Linked DNA regions of Homo sapiens: region 1 is linked to region 2. The links come from fine-mapping of genetic effects on gene expression. A gene starts in region 2. The other region holds a variant in brackets. All regions are shown on one strand. Distances are between the middles of the regions.

Region 1 (9,832 bases), 460 kb after region 2:
CCGGCTAATTTTGTATTTTTAGTAAAGACGGGGTTTGTCCATGTTGGGCAGGCTGGTCTCAAACTCCCGACCTCAGGTGATCTGCCCGCCTCAGCCTCCCAAAGTGCTGGGATTACAGGCGTGAGCCGCTGTGCCCTGCCAGGATTTTTTTAATGTATGTTTCTGTTTATAAAAACAATATATTTTAATCAGAAAAGTAGAATGGAGGAAGAAAAATTAGTTATACTAAGAGATAATCACTAAGAGAAAATGGACCAAAGTGTTTTTTTTTTCATGTATATATGTATTGGAATATACCTGAGCTCATTCCAAGAATACAGTTTTACATTGTATTTTTAATATGGTATTTGCCCTTTGTAAACTCTTGGAAAACATTTATAGTGTTCGCAAAATATTCCATTGAATAAGTGTACATAATTTAATCATTTTCCTGTGTTTGAATTTTTAGATGGCCTCGAGTTTTGTACTATTTTCTGTATTTCTGATTCTTAGGATAGATTCCTAAGATTGATCCAGAGGGATAAACATTTTCTAGGCCCTCATGCATCCATCTTCCCTTTTTATATGGAGATTTTAAAGAAAATAAGGAAAAAGGTACATTCTGCCACATGTGGGACATCTCTTTGGTGGTATCTGCACCTTACTAATGGATTTCCTGAGCAGAGCTGGCTACTTCTCTTCCATCAAACCATCTGTTGAGGATGGTGTGGGGCACTTTCTGAAATGACTTTGAAAGCTCTCTGACCATGTTCAAACAAACTCCTTGATCAGTAAGACTTTAGTCAGTCTTCACAATGACAATGAACAAATAAAAACATCTTCACTTCCCTCAGTAGCTGCTTCTGACAGGCATCTTGGATTTTTCAGGAGGTGACTTGTAAATGGGCTCAAGTAAGGTGTGGTATTCTTCTTGGACGTTGAGGTCCTGCTGTTATGGGAGCATCAGGGTTGCTCTTTGAGATTATGCTAAGTTCCCATCCATCCGGCTGTTGCAGAACATGCACTGCGCAAAGGTAGGGTTTTATTAGTCAAGATGCTTTCAATAGAAGTTCTCTTGTTTTGACTTTTGTGGCTCTTTCCATGTAATGGAGTACAATGATCTGTTTAGATCTATAAAATGGAGACAATAGTAGCTATTTTTCAGTAAGAATTCATGTAAAGTGTCAAGCTGATGCCTGGTTTATAGTAATAGATTCAATAAATGGCAACTGACAGATTATTGTATACATTTTCTTATATTTTTCTGTATTAAGTATTTTGCATTTTGAAATTTCTTTTCTTTTCTTTTTTTGTTTGAGACAAGGTCTTGCTCTGTCACTCAGGCTGGAGTGCAGTGATCCTGGCTCACTGCGGCCTCAACCTCCCAGGCTCAAGTGGTCCTCCCACCTCAGCCTCCCAAGTAGCTGGGACTATAGGTGCATGCCACCACGCCCAGCTAATTGAAAAAGACAGACATATTTTTGTTGTTGTTGTAGAGGTCTCACTATATTGCCCAGGCTGGTTTTCAATTCCTGAGCTCAAGGGATCCTCCTGCCTTGGCCTCCCAGAGTTCTGAGATTACAGGCGTGAGCCACTGTGCCTGGCCTTGAAATTTCTTAACCTCCAAGACAAATGAAGGATTATCAACAGTCCCTTTTGTTCCTCCAGAGAACCAAAAATTGCAAATGAAAAATGCCAGAGAATCATCAGTACGTGCAGTTTTCTGAGAAATGCCTGTGCTGTAATTCCATAGAAACACTAATGACCTCTGACTCATCAGACTGAATTGCCTTCCTAAACCGTTTTCACCTTTTGATTCTATAGCTACAGCCTTGAAAGCTGTGTACTGTCTTTATTTTTTAAAAATGTTTTAAAATTGAAATGTCATAATCTTGGGCTGGCTTTTCTGCCTTCAGTCTGGTTTCAAGGCTGTAATTGCAAAGCTAGAAGCCGGAAAAACTATATGAAAGGTGATGTAGGTTGATCAGATGGAAGTTATTAATGTTTCCATAGAAATATAGACACTCGTGTACTGCATTTAAGCTGAGCAAATACATGGGCATAGTATCCCCCTAAGATTTCATGTTTAAGAAAATTACATTAGGAAAAGGGTATTGTTTTTGTTGCACTTTTAAAAATGTGACCATGACATTTGTAGGTGGAGAAAAGAGCTACTACTTAAAGCTCTACCAGATAGCTTTTGCTATATGGACTTGTGGTGCTATGTTTCTGCATTCAAAAGCATTTTCTGTTATTCTTTAAGTATGGTTTGTCAAGCTGCCTGTGAGAAACAAAAGCTAATGGCCCAAGTGGCATCCCACTCACTGGATAGAAAAGCAAGAGGCAGGTGTGAATTTAATCAGCCAATCCAAGAAAAGTGTTCCTGTATCTGCCTAGGTCTGGAGCTGCTTGCAGGCTGCAGATATGGCTGTAAGGCAGGCTGTGTAGTTCATGTTTGTTACTTCCCACCACCAAAATAAAGCTGCATTCCTTCTCAGCCTCATGCCAAAGCCATTCATTGTACCAAAAGGAGACTAGAAGATAGAGTGGAGGAAGGGCCCCCCCAAAGGGAAGTTTCTAGAATCTAAAGGAGGTCTATGGATGGCTAGCCATGTGTGTTTTGGCTGCCTCAACAAAGCTCTTTTATTTCTATTTTTAATTTATTTTTTATTTTTGAGACAGAGTCTCGCTCTGTCATCCAGGCTGGAGTGCAGTGGCACCATCTCGGCTCACTGCAACCTCTACTTCCCGGGTTCACGTGATTCTCCTGCCTCAGCCTCTTGAGTAGCTGGGACTACAGGCGCGTACCACCATGCCTGGCTAATTTTTTGTGTTTTTACTAGAGACGGGGTTTCACCGTGTTAGCCAGGATGGTCTCCATCTCCTGACCTCGTGATCCGCCCACCTCAGCCTCCCAAAATGCTGGGATTACAGGCGTGAGCCACAGTGCCCAGCTGCTCTTTTATTTTTTATTTTTATTTTTATTTTTTGAGACGAAGTTTCGCTCTTCCTGCCCAGGCTGGAGTGCAGTGGTGCGATCTCGGCTCACCACAACCTCTGCCTCCTGGTTCAAGCAATTCTCCTGCCTCAGCCTCTCGAGTAGCTGGGATTACAGGCATGCGCCACCACACCCGGCTAATTTTGTATTTTTAGTAGAGACGGGGTTTCTCCATCTTGCCAGGCTGGTCTCAAACTCCTAACCTCAGGTGATCTGCCCACCTCGGCCTTCCAAAGTGCTGGGATTAGAGGCGTGAGCCACCGTGCCCGGCCTCTTTTATTTTTTTAAAACTCCTTGTGCTTTTGGTTTTCTGGTTGAAATTTTAGAGCCCCTGTATTGAAGTAATGAGAGTTGGGCTGTTACTGACAAACTTCCTAGGTGTACATATATTTTCAGTCACTGTTGCCTATAGGATAAAAACCAAAAACTCTTCATGTATGACAGTTGAAGGTCTTTATGATAAGGCCCTGCTGAGATTCCAATCAAGTCAAATTACCAAGTAACATTCTGTTTTTTCTCTCTATTTAGTGCTTTCACATGCTGCTTCCTCTAAATATGTTTCTCAAATAGCCCTGTTTGCCTGGTGAATGCCTGTCTCCTCTCTGTGCTCCTGGCTCCATGATTGCTGCTTCTCTTCTCCCTGATATCGATCATGGCTACCGAGCACTTTCACTGACCTCAGTGCATCATATCATTGAGTACTCATAATCGACAGATGAGGAAATTGGCCCAGAGGGTGAAGTCATTTCCTAAGCTAACACAATTAGTAAGTAATGGTGCCAGGACTCAAACCTATTCTGAAATAAAAATTTATGCTCTTTCTACTCTGCACTGCTTCCCAGTGTATCATGTCCATCTGTCCCATAGTGTTAATTTTTTCGAAAATATTGTTTCAACTTTTTTCTTCAGTAGGCTTTAATCTTTTTAAAAATTGTGGTAAAATATACGTAGCATAAAATTTACCATTTTAACCATTTGAAGTGTACAACTTAGTGGCATTAAGTGCATTTGCATTGTCAGGCTCTACAGTTATTTTTGTCTGCTCTGTACTCCTAGAGACTATTAATTCTCTGTAGTCAGTCTTATTCATATCTCTACCTTCGAGGCCTCTGGCCTGTTACAGTATGGGTAGATACTTAATATTTGAAGGAGTAAGTGACTGCATTTGCAGGCTGAT[G/T]GACCTATTCTTATAACAGCTGACACAGCTATAAATTGGCTAGTAAATAATACTGGCCTAAACATTTCCATATTTTATTTTTTTAAGCATGTATATCCAAAACATGTGGTGTGACAAATTTACAAAGAGGGACGACAACTATGTTTTCACTGTTTCATAGCCACCAGCCTCATACGGCCATTTAAATTAAGAGTAAAGTTAAAAATTCAGTTCCTCATTCACGCCAGTCACATTCCAAGTACTCATTGGCCACATGTAGCTAGTGGCAACTGTATTGGACAGTGTAGATATATGACATTTTCGTCATTGTAGAAATTTCTATTGGACAGTGCTTATCTAGGCTTTAAAAGTTGAGAATAGTGAAATTGTTCTCTTGAAATTTGTTATTTTGGCAAGAAATTCATTGTAGTGGCATTGTAGCTTACCATTATTGTCTTCTGGTGAAAGAAACAGTTCTTCAAACATTTATTGAGCTGCCTTTCCTGGGACATGTCTCAGGCCCAGGGCTGGGGTTATCTTTGGGGTTGAGACTAGATTTGACTGATCTAGTCAAGAGTTTTATTGGGTGCCAAATCATGATCACGGGAGACAAGGTAGATGGGAAACTGATACAGCTGACTAGAGGGGATTGGTCTAGGAAAGACCAGTGAATGACTGTTGTATATCAATAGAAAACCTGGGTAAAGATTTTTAACTTTTTCTTGGGGATCCTGGAAAAACAGACTTCTCTGAAACCTTGGGTTCTCTGAATTCAGGTTCTAGTGGTCCTGATCATGATATGGTTGTGGTGTGTAAAGCACAGGAACCTGTGGGAGCATAGAAGAGTCACACAGAATTCGTCAGAGCAATTTCAAGACCTATTTTGACCTTTGGCTTTCTTAGTCCTACAAGCCCTGTGTCACTGTATCTCATGTTTAAAACTATATAAGACTTGAATTGCAATTGACTAAGTGAAATAACGTTATCTCATATTTAATTAAAACATTTGAATTTCAAATTTGCAGATGTGTTTGTGTTTTGGATTTTGAAACCAGTCTTTTTCTTCCTCATAGGTCCCTGAAAAACTATAGTTTCAGCCATGTTGTTTGTAGTGCCTAACTCAGACTTGAGTGTTTGCAGGAAAGGGAGGGGGAAATTAGAGGAGACCTGACTTGAGTCCTTATGTCAGTGGTGAGTAAAGGTGGGCTCAGGTGGAGAAAATAGCATGTGTAAAGGAATTGAGGCCAAAGAGCGTGTTGAATTCTGGGAGCCACGATGTACTTCAGTGTGGATGGAGTATACACTGTTGGGTAGGATGCTATGAAAAGCAAGAGATAAAGTGGTTGGCAAATCATGAGAGACACATACAACTTCTGTTTTGTAGAAAGAGATAGTTGATTAGAATTGTAGAATTTTACCTTTTAAGGGCCTTAATCTTACATATGGGTTATTGAGGCTTCAAAAGAGACTGAGTAACTAGCAGAACGTTAACCAGAGTCCATGTCTCTGTTGCACTATATTGTCTTCCTACAGTCAAACTAAAACATTGCTTGAGTAACTCTAACACATTATAGAGTATAATTAGCTAGTGTTTCACACCTTAATTTGCTGACTGGTGATACTCAGAAGTTTATTTAAGTTTCTGTCATGGTAAATTTACAATTTTATAGTCAAAATATCAAAAAGGAAAAAGATCAGTGACATTTTAATCTCTCATGATAGCCAGTCACAATTTGAGGAATCAGTGATCATTTTCTTTTTGTCAAATGCCTTTTTGTCAAATGTGTGGTGGTGCACACCTGTAGTCTCAGCTACTTGGGAGGCTGAAGTAGGAGGGTTGCTTGGGTCCTAGAGGTCAAGGCTGCAGTGAGCCATGATCGTGCCACTGCACCCCAGCCTGGGCTACAGAAGCAAGACCTTGTTTAAAAAGCAAACAAAACGCCTATTTGGAGAAGAGCTTGTCAACTGGAACTTTCTCTTGTATGAAATAAGATTCCTAGACTTAGAGCCATTTGCTGATTACTTGCCATAAAGTAGATGATTTACATATATTCACCAAATCTCATGACAATTGAATGTGATGGTTATTTTTATCCTCATTCCAAGACATGGGTTTGGAGTAGTTAATTTGATAATAGCAAATCTGGGATTTGAATCTAATTCTAATTCATACCCATACCCTCGCCGCCCCCATTTTTTTTTTTTTTTTGAGATGGAGTCTCGCTCTGTTGTCCAGGCTGGAGTGCAGTGATGTGATCTGGGCTCACTGCAACCTCTGCCTCCCAGGTTCAAGCATTTCTCCTGCCTCAGCCTCCTGAGTAGCTGGGCTTATAGGCACCTGCCACCACCAAAATTAGCCCAGCTAATTTTTGTATTTTTGTATTTTTTTTTTTTTTAGATGGAGTCTTGCTTCGTTGTCTGGGCTGGAGTGCAGTGGGGTGATCCTGGCTCACTGCAACCTCCGCCTCCCGGGTTCAAATGATTCTCTTGCCTCAGCCCCCCGAGTAGCTAGGACTACAGCATGCGCCACCACGCCTGGCTAATTTTTGTATTTTTAGTAGAGATGGGGTTTCACTATGTTGGCCAAGCTGGTCTCAAACTCCTGACCTCGTGATCCTCCCGCCTTGGCCTCCCAAAGTGCTGGGATTACAGGTGTGAGCCGCTGCACCCGGCCCAATTTTTGTATTTTTAGTAGGGATGGGGTTTTACCATGTTGGTCAGGGTGGTCTTGAACTCCTGACCTCAGGTGATCCACCTGCCTCAGCCTCCCCAAATGCTGGGATTACAGGCGTGAGCGATTGTGCCCGGCCCCCGTGTCCTTTTTTCAGTACGCATTTATCTTCCTAGTTAAACTGAGGCAAGTGAATATAACCTTTGCAGTAACATTTCAGATTGCTTGTGTGCACACTGACTTGGTGATATCATCTTAGGAACCAATCTGTTTCTTGTCTCTCTTTTCCTTTTGAAAGCAATTTAAGTCACCATACAAAGACCCTGGATTTCTCAGAAAATTTCCTGGATTTCTCAGAAAATTTCCTGATCTGTTTAATATGTTGTATTCTGTGCGACAGGTGGGTTTGGGGGTATGTTTGTTTATTTATGAAGCTTAAGAGCCTGCTTTTCTTTTTGTTTTGTTTTGTTTTGAGACAGAGTCTTGCTCTGTTGCCCAGGCTGGAGTACAGTGGCGCGATCTCCGCTCACTGCAACCTCCGCCTCCCAGGTTAAAGCTATTCTCTTGCCTCAGCCTCCTGAGTAGCTGTGACTACAGGTGTGCACCACCACGCCAGACTAATTTTTGTATTTTTAGTAGAAACGGGGTTTTACTATGTTGGCCAGGCTGGTCTTGAACTCCTGGCCTCGTGATCTGCCCACCTCAGTCTCCCAAAGTGCTGGAATTACAGGCGTGAGCTACCACGCCCCGCCTAATTTTTGTATTTCTAGTAGAGATGGCGTTTTACCATGTTGGTCAGGCTGGTCTAGGACCCCTGACCTCAGGTGATCCACCGCGCCCAGCCTCTTTTTTTTGGTTTTTGAGAAGGAGTCTTGCTCTTTCCCCCAGGCTGGAGTGCAGTGGCATAATCTCGGCTCACTACAACCTCTGCCTCTGTGTTCAAGCGATTCTTCTGCCTCAGCCTCCCAAGTAGCTGGTATTACAGGTGTGCACTGCCATGCCAGGCTAATTTTTGTCTTTTTAGTAGAGATGGGGTTTCACCATTTTTGCCATGCTGGTCTCGAACTCCTGACCTCAAGTGATCCACCCACCTTGGCCTCCCAAAGTGTTGGGATTACAGGTGTGAGCCACTGCGCCCGGCCAAGATTCTGCTTTCTGCTGAACAACTCTGATTGCCTTTGAGTTGAATCTAATTGAATAAATCCAATTTAACGTACATTTGGGGTTACATCTAGCAGTGGTTTGGGTTCTTCTAGCTAAGAATCATTTTGCCAGCTAGATGTGGTTGCTGAGAATCTGGGCAAAACTCTGCTTGACAATAGTAGCTAGCTGTGGCCATTTCATTGCCTTGTGGTCAGTAGGTATGTGGTTTGTAGGTAAGATTAACATTGTTCTCCATATATCTTCAAGGCTCCTGCATTAGTGATGATCTGTAAATCCAGAGACAACATAATAGCAGTGGTCTCAGGACTAGGTCGAGGGAATGTAGATGTAATTACTGAATTTTATAATCAGGATCTTTGTGACCCTTGGAGGATTTTTTTTAGTGTGAATATAGAGTCTTTCCTCAGGAAGTAGCAAACATCTGGAATCACCACATCAAGCACTTTACAGGCTGAAAATGTAAAAGTTCAAGAACCACAGCAAGTAACCAAAGTGACATTAGTGATATTAGGGTTCCATCCCAGGTCTTTGAGGATGATGCCATGAATGGTTTAATAGTAACTCTGCTATAATCTACACTTTGCTTCCATAGACACAGCACTGAATTGGATGGACCCTAGAGATTAGTTAGTAGCAGCTTACATATATAGAGGTCTTACTTTGTCAAGTACTGTGCAAAGCCTTTATATTCACTGTGTCATTTAATTCTTTATTTTTTGAGACCTGGTCTCACTCTGTTGCCCAGGCTGGAGTGTAGTGGCACGATCATGGCTCACTGCATCCTCGACCTCCTAAGCTCAGGTGATCTCTACCTCAGCCTCCCAAGTAGGTGGGATTACAGGCATACACCACCACACCTGGCTAACTTTTGTATTTTTTTGGTAGAGATAGGGTTTCACCATGTTGCCCAGGCTGGTCTCCGACTCCTGGGCTCAAGCGATCCTCCTGCTTCGGCTTCCCAAAGTGCTGGGATTACAGGCATGCACCACTGTACCTGGTCTCATTTAATTCTTTTGACATCCCCATAAGGTAGGTGCTGTTGTTGATCCCAATTTACAACAAAGTTAGGGTCAATTCTCCTTGGATCATGTGGCCTTTGAATAGAAGTCTGCAAAGAAAAATCAGGGTGCCATTAACAGAAGTGGGGAGTGGTTGCTAGGCAGATAAAAGCAATAGATGTCCATCTTAAATATTTTACTTAGTATTTTCTTTGTTTTTGAGTCACCCTCTATTTTTGTTTGATCATTTACTTGAGTTCACAACAATGGGCACTTTCAGAAGGTACATTAGGCTTTGTCCTTTTTTGAGACTTCTAGTATAGTCCGTTCATTTAATGTCCAAAGTAGTCTGAGGCCCAGAATAGGGAGTCATATAACTAAAGGTGGCTTGAGTTAGAACCTAGGAGAGGTCTAACCTTCCCATTGTACCAGCCTGCTTTCCTGTACTTTTGTCCCGTTTTTGAGTCAATTTACATGAAGTGAATGCTTATTCTCAGTTTCACTTCTGGCATGATGTTCAACATTCAATCCGTGTGTAGTGATGAATTATTTTCTCATTGCCTGGTACTATGGTCTGAATGTTTGTGATCCCCCTGAATTCACATATTGAAATCCTAACCTCCAAGGTGATGGTATTAGCATGGGGGCCTTTTGGGAGGTGATTGTTCCATTATAAGAGAGACCCTAAAGAGCTCATTCTACCATGTGAGAACAGTGATAAGGTACCATCTGTGAACCATAAAATGGGCTCTCACTAGACACCAAATCTACCAGCATCTTGATCTTGGACTTCACGGCTCCAGAACTGTGAGACTTACTTTATGATATTTTATTATAGCAGTCTGAATGGACTAAGACACCTGGCA
Region 2 (9,832 bases):
AATATATAGTATGAGGACATGCATGTCTTAGGAGGGTCTCACCCTGTAAGGAGCCAGGGAGATAGGGTGGTCAGAGAAGGCTTCCTGAAGAAGCACCATTTGGAGAGAGATCTGAAGTATGAGTAGAAATTAGCTGGGTAGGCCAGGTGTGGTGGCTCACACCTGTAATCTCAGCACTTTGGGAGGCTAGAGTGGGAGGATCGCCTGAGCCCAGGAGTTTGAGACCAGCCTGGGCAACATAGCGAGACTGGGTCTCTAAAAAAAAAAATTAGCTGGGCATGGTAGTACACACCAACAGTCCCAGTTACTTGGGAGATGGAGATGGGAAGGTTACTTGAGGCCAGGAGGTCGAGGCTATAATGAGCCACAATTGTACCACCGCATTCCAGCCTGGGTGGCCAGCCACAGAGGAAGAACTTGTCTCAAAAATAAAATAAAATAAGCTGGGAAAAGAGAGGGACAAAAAGTGGAGGGAAAGAGCACTCCAGGCAGAAAGAGCAGTCCAGGCAAAGAGACCAGCATGAACAGCTCCTGAGTGGAACAGTGCAAAGGGCACAATAAAGAAGAGAAAGAGAACAAAGGAACAAGTCATGGGATTTGAGGTTGGAAATACAGGCAGAAACATTTTGCAGGGACCATTGGGCCAGTTTAAGAAGTCTAATTTGTTTGTTTGTTTGTTTGAGACGGAGTCTCCCTCTGTTGCGCCCAGGCTGGAGTGCAGTGGCACCATCTCGGCTTGCTGCAACCTCCACCTCCCAGGTTCAAGAATTGTCCTGCCTCAGCCTCCCGAGTGGCCAGGATTACAGGCATGCACCACCACTCCCGGTTAATTTTTGTATTTTTAGTAGAGACGGGGTTTTGCCATGTTGGCCAGACTGGTCTCAAACTCCTGGCTTCAAGTGATCCACCCACCTCAGCCTCCCAAAGTGCTAGGATTATAGGCATGAGCTATTGCGCCCGGTCAGGAGTCTGATTTTTCTTTTTTTTTGAGATGGAGTCTCGCTCTGTCGCCCAGGCTGGAGTGCCTCAGCCTCCAGAGTAGCTGGGACTACAGATGCCCGCCACCACGCCCGGCTAATTTTTTGTATTTTTAGTAGAGACAGGGTTTCACCATGTTAGCCAGAGTGGTCTCGATCTCCTGACCTCGTGATCCGCCCACCTCGGCCTCCCAAAGTGCTGGGATTACAGGCATGAGCCACCGTGCCCGGCCTTTTTTTTTTTTTTTTTTTTTGAAACGGATTCTTGCTCTGTGGCCCATGCTGGAGTACAGTGGCATGATCTCAGCTCACTGCAACCTCTGCCTCCCAGATTCAAGCAATTCTCCTGTCTTAGCCTCCCTAGTAGCTGGGACTACAGTTGCACAACACCATGCCAGCTAATTTTTGTATTTTTAGTAGAGATGGGGTTTCACCATATTGGTCAGGCTGGTCTCAAACTCCTGACCTCAGGAGATCCACCCGCCTTGGCCTCCCAAAGTGCTGGGATTACAGGCATGAGCCACCGTGCCCAGCCCAGGAGTCTGATTTTTATCCCAACACCAACAGGGAGGCACAAAAGGGTTTTAAACTAGGAAATGCCATGATTGGCTGTATTCTGGGTACAGAGCAAGACAGATGCATGGAAGCCAGTCTGGAGTCTCTCCTTCAAGGTCCTGTTGAAGAACTGCCACCTCTCTACAACCTTCTGTGGGCCCTGACTCAGAGCAGATCACATTTTATCACCATCACCTGCTTAGTCTGTAGTCCCCAGTACACAGAGACTATTTACAATTCTACCTCCAGCACCCACAGAGCAGCTGCCCCCATCAGGCCAATGTTAGTTGTTGAATAAAGGGTTGTTTGAACAAACAGCCAAGAAACAGTGAAGCCAGTTTAATCCAAATCTAATTTCCTAAAAATCTTAAAAATGAGTCAGAGCTCGGGGGAAGACACAGCATTGGAGCTGAGGATGCCAGATGGTCAGTGCCTTACTCTTTCTGGTAAATGGATTTTAATAAAATTAACATCTGCTCTGTGATAATTACTGCCCCCCTATCTTTCCTCTGAAGACTTTCTCAGACAGTTTGAGTCTAATTACCAGAAACTGCAGACAGTTTCATCTCTACCCCTTTTTGTTGATGATCAAATATGTAAATAAACTACTTATAAATGAAACAAAAACTCATGCTTTTCTGTGTCTGGATCCTTCCTTACAGACCATGTTGCTTTCCTGGGCTTGTCTCCAGGTTCCAAGACTGGCAGTTGCTTCATGGTGTCCTATGCATAAGAAAGAAAGGCACTTTTTAGACACTTATGATTATCATCTTAATCAATTCAACCTCCTTTTTAAACCTTTCCTGTTGAATGTACTAATTTCTAGGCCTGATTGATTTGAATAAGAATCACCAACTTTTCATCTTTATTTTTATTATTTATTTATTTATTTATTTATTTGAGATGGAGTTTAGCTCTCGTTGCCCAGGCTGGAGTGCAATGGCAAGATCTCAGCTCATGGCAACCTCTGCCTCCCAGGTTCAAACGATTCTCCTCCCTCAGCCTCCCGAGTAGCTTGGATTACAGGCATGTGCCACTACGCCCAGCTAATTTTTCTATTTTTAGTAGAGATGGAGTTTCACCATGTTGGTCAGGCTGGTCTCGAACTCCTGACCTCAGCTGATCCACCCGCCTCAGCCTCCCAAAGTGCTGGGATTACAGGTGTGAGCCACCGTGCCTGGCCTATGTATTTATCTTTATTATTATTTTTAGATAGAGTCTCACTCTGTTGCACAGGTTGGAGTGCAGTGGTGCAATCTCCACTCACTGCAACCTTCCCCTCCCAGGTTTAAATGATTCTCCTTTCTCAGCCTCCTGAGTAGCTGAGATTACAGGTGCCCACCCACGCCCAGCTCATTTTTCTAGCTTTTCTAGTAGAGACGGGGTTTTACCACACTGGCCAGGCTGGTCACTAACTCCTGACCTCAGGTGATTTGCCCGCCTCAGCCTCCCAAAGTGCTGGGATTACAGGCATGAGCCACCGTGCCTGGCTTTATTTTTTATTTTTATTTTTTCTGAGATGGAGTCTCACTCTGTCACCCAGGCTGGAGTGCAGTGGCAGGATCTCAGCTCACTGCAACCTCTGCCTCCCGGGTTCAAGCTATTCTCCTGCCTCAGCCTCCAGAGTAAGCTGGGACTACAGGCAAGTGCCACCACACCTGGCTAATTTTTTTTGTATTTTTCGTAGGGATGGGGTTTCACTATGTTCGCCAGGCTGGTCTTGAACTTGGCTCGCCTCGGCCTCCCAAAGTGCTGGGATTACAGGCGTGAGCCACTGAGCCCGGCCATTTATTTATTTTTTAATTAAAAATAGAAACGGGGCTGGGAGCAGTGGCTCACGCCTGTAATCCCAGCACTTTGGGAGGCCGAGGCAGGCGGATCATGAGGTCAGATCGATACCATCCTGGCCAACATGGTGAAACCCTGTCTTTACTAAAAATACAAAAAAAATTAGCTGGGCGTTGTGGCCCACGCCTGTAGTCCCAGCTACTCAGGAGGCTGAGGCGTGAGAATTGCTTGAACCCAAGAGGCGGAGGTTGCAGTGAGCCGAAATTGCGCCACTTGCACTCCAGCCTGGCGACAGAGCAAGACTCCTCCTCAAAAAAAGAAAAAAAAATAGAAATGGAGGTTTCGCTTTGTTGTCCAGGCTGGTCTCGAACTCCTAGCCTCAGGCAATTCTTCCACCTCAGCCTCCTAAAAAGCTGGGATTACAGGTGTGAGCCACTGCTCTCCGCTCAAAGGACAAAATATTTAAAGAAGCTGAGAAATACTGAGCTCTGGGATAAATCTTGGCCTCAACATAGCATAGAAAGTAAGGCCTTCTGCTGTTGAGCTTTTTTCCCGTGAACTCACCTCCACAATCTCTTGCATTATTGGTTTTTTTGCTGTTCTTGTAATATGGCAGGCCTTTTCATAATTTTGCAGCCTGTTCTGCTTCCCCTATTTGGAATGTCGCTTCCCTTCTGGGAAATTTGCAAACTCCTAGTTAACCTTCAAAGCCCAGTTCAAAAGTCCCTTCCCTGGTGAAACCTTCCCTGATTTGCCCTTTTCTCTTCCACCCACATCCAAGTTACTTCCTTCTTCCACCCACTGGGCTCTGAAGGTATTAGCCATCACCATTGCAGGAATCATTTGGAATGTTTATCTATTTAAGGCTTCTAGACTAGATTCTAGATTAAATTCCACTAGACTAAGTTCCTAGAGGGCTGGGCCTGTCAGATCCATTCCGAGAACCTACCAATGGACCTGGCATGGAGTAGAAGTGGGGGAGTGGCTAGTGAATGAAGAAAGAAAATAGATTGAGAGATGAATGGATAAATCTCACCTGCGGCCTAGGCCACTGACAGCTGTCCCCAAAGTCCAGAGCTCAGTTAGGCTGGCTTCACGTGGGCGGGACCTCCCGCAGCAGCCGCCGCTACCAGCCCAGCAAATCTCATCCCCACGTGGCAGTTCTAGGGGATAGGAGACGGGGTCGGGAAAGAACAGGCTGATTCGGTCAAAGTGGCCGGGACGGAGCCAGGGAAGGCCCTTCCCCGTTCTTTGCACCCGGCTTGGGCCCACTCCCCTAAAAGATTCAGACTCCCTGCCCGAGACCGTGATAGACCCGGTATCCGGGGACCCTCGCCCCTACCCTCCAGCCCCGGACTGCAATACCTGCGGCGACTTAGGCCAGTCGCGAGCCGTGACTCCACCCCGGAGGGGCGGGGCTTAGGTCCGGGCCCTCCTCCCAGGACCCGGAAGAGCGTCCGGGCCAACCGCTCCCTCTTCCCTGCTCCGCCCCGAGGGCCCGGCGCTGACTTCCTGGGCTGGCGGTGGAGGGGTCCCCCAGACCGGGAGTGGACGCCAGGCTCTGCATTTCTCGGGAACCAAGTGGGGTGGGCCTTCCCTGGGTCCCTCCCTCCCGGACGGGATAAATAAGCCGGGGCTACTTGGAAACGATTTGCGCAATGCCGGGTTCGGGCGTCCGTTTGGGGAACTCAGATGCCTGCGGCAGCTGATCTACTCTGTAAGGGGCTAACAGGGCTGGGCGCCACCACACTCCAGCTTGGGCAACAGCGCAAAAACTCCCTCTCAAAAAAATAAATAAATAAAAGGGGGGGAGGGTATAACAGTTACATTTCCAGTTACAACGATTGTTTTTTTTTTTTTTTTTTGAGACGGAGTCTCGCTCTGTCGCCCAGGCGGGACTGCGGACTGCAGTGGCGCAATCTCGGCTCACTGCAAGCTCCGCTTCCCGGGTTCACGCCATTCTCCTGCCTCAGCCTCCCGAGTAGCTGGGACTACAGGCGCCCGCCACCGCGCCCGGCTAATTTTTTTTGTATTTTTAGTAGAGACGGGGTTTCACCTTGTTAGCCAGGATGGTCTCGATCTCCTGACCTCATGATCCACCCGCCTCGGCCTCCCAAAGTGCTGGGATTACAGGCGTGAGCCACCGCGCCCGGCCACAACGATTGTTAACAGTTTCTAAAGGGGAGAGTTGAGCATGCAATCCTCCTGCGCAGTCTTCGGGCCAGCTCAAGATTTGGTGCTTTAAACAGCTGATTCATTCCATAATTGCCATTTGTAATTATGGCAGGTGCTATGCTGAGCCAGACACCACCACGCTTTGCCTCCAGGAGCAAGTCTTAACTAGAGAGAGATCAAAGAAAAAGACAACTAGGGACGACTGCCAAGAGTGCAATAAATATAAAGTTCAGCCAGGAGAGTATCTGTTCTGAAGTTACTTTCCTCCAGGCCTCAGGGTTGTCTGTTTGTAACCATGGAGCTAATAAGATTTCTATCATAGGCTGGGCGCGGTGGCTCACGCCTATAAGTCCAGCACTTTGGGAGGCCGAGGCGGGCGGATCACGAGGTCAGGAGTTCGAGACCAGCCTGGCCTACATGGTGAACGCCCCCGCCCCCCCCCCCAACTAAAAACACAAAAATTAGCTAGGCGTGGTGGTGGGCGCCTGTAATCCCTGCTACTCAGGAGGCTGAGGCAGGAAAATTGCTTGAATCTGGGAGGCGGAGGTTGCAGTGAGCCGAGATAGTGCCACTGCACTCCAGCCTGGGTGACAGAGCCAGACTCCGTCTCAAGAAAAAAAAAAAAAAAAGAGAGATGTATGTAGTAGTTGTGGTGGGGAATACATGACATAATGTAAATAAAAGTGCTCAGCACCCAGCAGCTGGCACAGAGTTCTCTGTCAAGGGTAAAGCTATTCCTGACTATAAATGAACAATGTCTCTAGACATATTCAGAATCTACATTATCTTTGTTTTAGTTCATAACCATAGGTTCTCTGTGTCTTTCCTGAAAATAGAGAGGTGGCTTGCTCTCTTATGTCTGTTTCAAAGAACTCCAGTCTCTGAAACTGTCGCTGTGTCCTAGAAAATAGAGAAAACAGCTCAGGTTAGAAACAGGAGCTCCTGGAGTATAGAGCTATGGTAGCTTAGTGGGAAGAGATCAAACATACTTGGGTTAAAATCCAAGCTCCAGGCTGGGTGTGGTGGCTCATGCCTGTAATCCCAGCACTATGGGAGGCCAAGGAGGGCAGATCACGAGGTCAGGAGTTCAAGACCAGCCTGGCCAACATAGTGAAACCCCATCTCTACTAAAAATACAAAAATTAGCCAGGCACGGTGATGCGCACCTATAGTCCCAGCTACTCGGGAGGCTGAGGCAGGAGAATTGCTTGAATCGGGAGGCAGAGGTTGTGGTGAGCCAAGATCATGCCACTGCACTCCAGCTTGGGCAACAGAGCAAGACTCTGTCTAAAAAAAAATCAGCCAGGCGTTTGCCTGTAATCCCAGCTACTCAGGAGGCTGAGGCAGAAGAATCACTTGAACCCAGGAGGTGGAGGTTGCAGTGAGCCGAGATCGTGCCACTGCACTCCAGCCGGGGCAACAGAGCAAGACTCTGTCAAAAAAAAAAAATCCAGGGTCCAGCACTAACCATCTAACTCTGACATTTGGCAAGTTACCCACTCTGAACCCTAGTTCCTCATCTATAGAATGATGATAGTATTACCTGCTGTGCAGACAGAACTGTTCAGAGGATGTGCTAATACAGGTGAAAGGCCAGGTTGGTGAAAGGAATATTTTAGCTACTTGAAACCATAACCAAAATTTATTGACAAAATGGAATTCAAGGTCTGCGGCTCTTTCAAACATATGGAGTCTTTGTGAGTTCCCACTTTAGTGGAAAAATCCCCATTGACTGTCTGCCAAAGAGAAGTTTAGGGATATTCAGTCATTCTGCTCTCCTTCAGGAAAGAAAACCAAGTCCAGGTTAGCTCTGCCATATGTCCATGTGCATCTCCACGTACATTTCTGCTCACAGCTGCAGAATGCTCTGATGTCCCCGGTGTTTTCTGGCTAGCTCTGTTTCAAGGTGCCATGCTGGAGTGGCACATCAACAAGAAAAATTGGAAGAGGTTTGTGGGCAAAATAGCAGCCAGTTTTCACTGCGGGACCTATTTATTTATTTATTTACAGACGGAGTCTCGATTTGTCGCCCAGGATGGAATGCAGTGGCGCCCTCAGTTCACTGCAACCTCCGCCTCCTGGGTTCAAGCAATTGTCCTGCCTCAGCCTCCCAAGTAGCTGGGATTATAGGCGTGGCCACCACGTATGGTTAATTTTTGTACTTTTAGTAGAGACGGCATTTCACCATGTTGGCCAGGCTGGTCTTGAACTCCTAGCCTCAGATGATCCACCTGCCTTGGCCACCCAAAGTGCTGGCATTACAGGCATGAGCCACCGTGCCTGCTGAACCTATGCTTTTAGACTAGAAATCACATTTGAGAATGTGGAATGCCTGAGATCTATTTTCTTTTTTTTTTTTTGAGACAGTCTTGCTCTGTCGCCCAAGCTGGGGGAGTGCAGTGGCATGATCTCGGCTCACTGCAACATCCGCCTCCCGGGTTCAAGCAATTCTCTGCATCATCCTCCCAAGTAGCTGGGATTACAGGTACCCGCCACCACACCCAGCTAATTTTTTTTTTGCATTTTTAGTAGAGACGGGGTTTCACCATCTTGGCCAGGCTGGTCTTGAACTCCTGACCTCGTGATCCACCCACCTCGGTCTCCCAAAGTTCTGGGATTACAGGCGTGAGCCACTGCGCCAGGCTGCCTGAGATGTATTTTCTATTTCTATTTTTATTTATTTACTTATTTTGAGATGGAATCTTGTTCTGTCGCCCAGCCTGGAGTGCAGTGTCATGATCTCAGGTTACTGCAACCTCCGCCTCCCAGGTTCAAGCAATTCTCTTGCCTCAGCCTCCTGAGTACCTGGGACTACAGGTGCGCACCACCATGCCTGGCTAATTTTTGTATTTTTCGTAGAGACAGGGTTTCACCATGTTGGCCAGGTTGGTCTTGAATTCCTGACCTCAAATGATTCACCCACCTCTGCCTCCAAAAGTGCTGGGATTACAGGTGTGAGCCACTGTGCCTGGCAAGAGATGTATTTTTAAAAATGGAAATCAAGGCCCAGAGAAGTTAAAATAACTACCCCACATAAAATGGCAGAACCAGGAACCCAGGAACCCAGATCTCTTATTTCTTGCAAGGAAGACTAAGAATGCATTCCAGTCATCAAGCTCTGTTACCCCATCTCCATACCAAACCACTGGAAGTGTCTAACACCTCTCCTAAAAGCTTGCCCAACACTCTGACGCACGCTTTCTTCTTTTCTCTCTGCTGTGGATGTGAAGAATGATGTTCACTCAATGAGGTGGGTCTGCAGGAGGGAGCTTCCTCCTGTCAGATAGTGTGGTCATGTGAGGACTGCCACCTATTTTCACTGGAACAGCACACCACTGACCTCTTTACTGATGCATCAGCAAGGGAAGTAATGAATGCCGGTGAGACCTTCCTTTTAAGCACTTTACAGTTTATGAAGAACATTCACATCCATCTCCCTATTTGTCTTCCTTCCCACTTCTGAGAAGGTATCTTGAATAGGATTTATTCCCAATTACTGAGGTTCAGAGATTAAGAGTGAATTGTGGCTGGGCGCAGTGGCTCATGCCTGTAATCCCAACACTTTGGGAGGCCGAGGTGGGCCAATCAACTGAGGTCAGGAGTTTGAGACCAGACTGACCAACATGGTGAAACCCCGTCTCTACTAAAAATACAAAAATTACCCAGGTGTGGAGATGCATGCCTGTAATCCCAGCTACTTGGAAGGCTGAGGTGGGAGGACTGCTTGAGCCTAGGAGGCAGAGGTTGCAGTGAGCCGAGATTGTGCCACTGCACTCCAGCCTAGGTGACAGAAAAAAAAAAAAAGGCGACAGCCTGTCTCAAAAAAAAAAAAAAAAAAAAGAAAGAAAGAAAGAAAGAAAAACAGCCAGTTTTCTATGCTACCCACAGAGGGGTCCATATGGGGTTGTTATGGATTCCCATCATAACTTAAAGGGAAACTTTCACAATGTCCAGAGCCCTTGCTGTCCTGCAAATGAAGGAGGAGGATGTCCTTAAGTTCCTTGCAGTAGGAACCCACTTAGTGGCACCAATCTTGACTTCTAGATGGAACAGTACATCTATAAAAGGAAAAGTGATGGCATCTACATCATAAATCTGAAGAGGACCTGGGAGAAGCTTCTGCTGGCAGCTCATGCCATTGTTGCCATTGAAAACCCTGCTGATGCCAGTGTTATATCCCCTAGGAATACTGGCCAGAGGGTTGTGCTGAAGTTTGCTGCTGCCACCAGAGCCACTCCAGTTGCTGGCCACTTCACTCCTGGAACCTTCACTAACCAGATCCAGGCTCCTTCCGGGAGCCACAGCTTTTTGTGGTTACTGACCCCAGGGCTGACCAC

Evidence for each region.
Region 1: its variant is fine-mapped to the expression of RABEPK in whole blood (INTERVAL, PIP 0.98).

Annotation. Positions count from the first base shown.
Region 1 is chr9:124,735,698-124,745,529 of GRCh38, reverse strand. The region is part of intron 1 of NR6A1 (nuclear receptor subfamily 6 group A member 1); the gene reads left to right. It overlaps LOC124900274 (a long non-coding RNA gene), which reads left to right. Exons shown (of 2, transcript XR_007061773.1): 1 at 1-1,013; 2 at 3,506-5,151. Among named protein-coding and RNA genes, the nearest start is that of NR6A1, 31 kb to the left of the region's middle. RefSeq lists an enhancer at 1-407. The variant G/T (reference allele first, on the strand shown) is at 4,155.
Region 2 is chr9:125,195,431-125,205,262 of GRCh38, reverse strand. It overlaps RABEPK (Rab9 effector protein with kelch motifs), which reads right to left and starts at 4,721. Exons shown (of 8, transcript NM_005833.4): 1 at 4,357-4,721; 2 at 2,197-2,255. The coding sequence starts at 2,249. It overlaps LOC105376271 (a long non-coding RNA gene), which reads left to right and starts at 4,867. Exons shown (of 2, transcript NR_135145.1): 1 at 4,867-5,037; 2 at 5,608-5,730. It also overlaps the pseudogene RPSAP76. RefSeq lists a silencer at 4,794-4,843.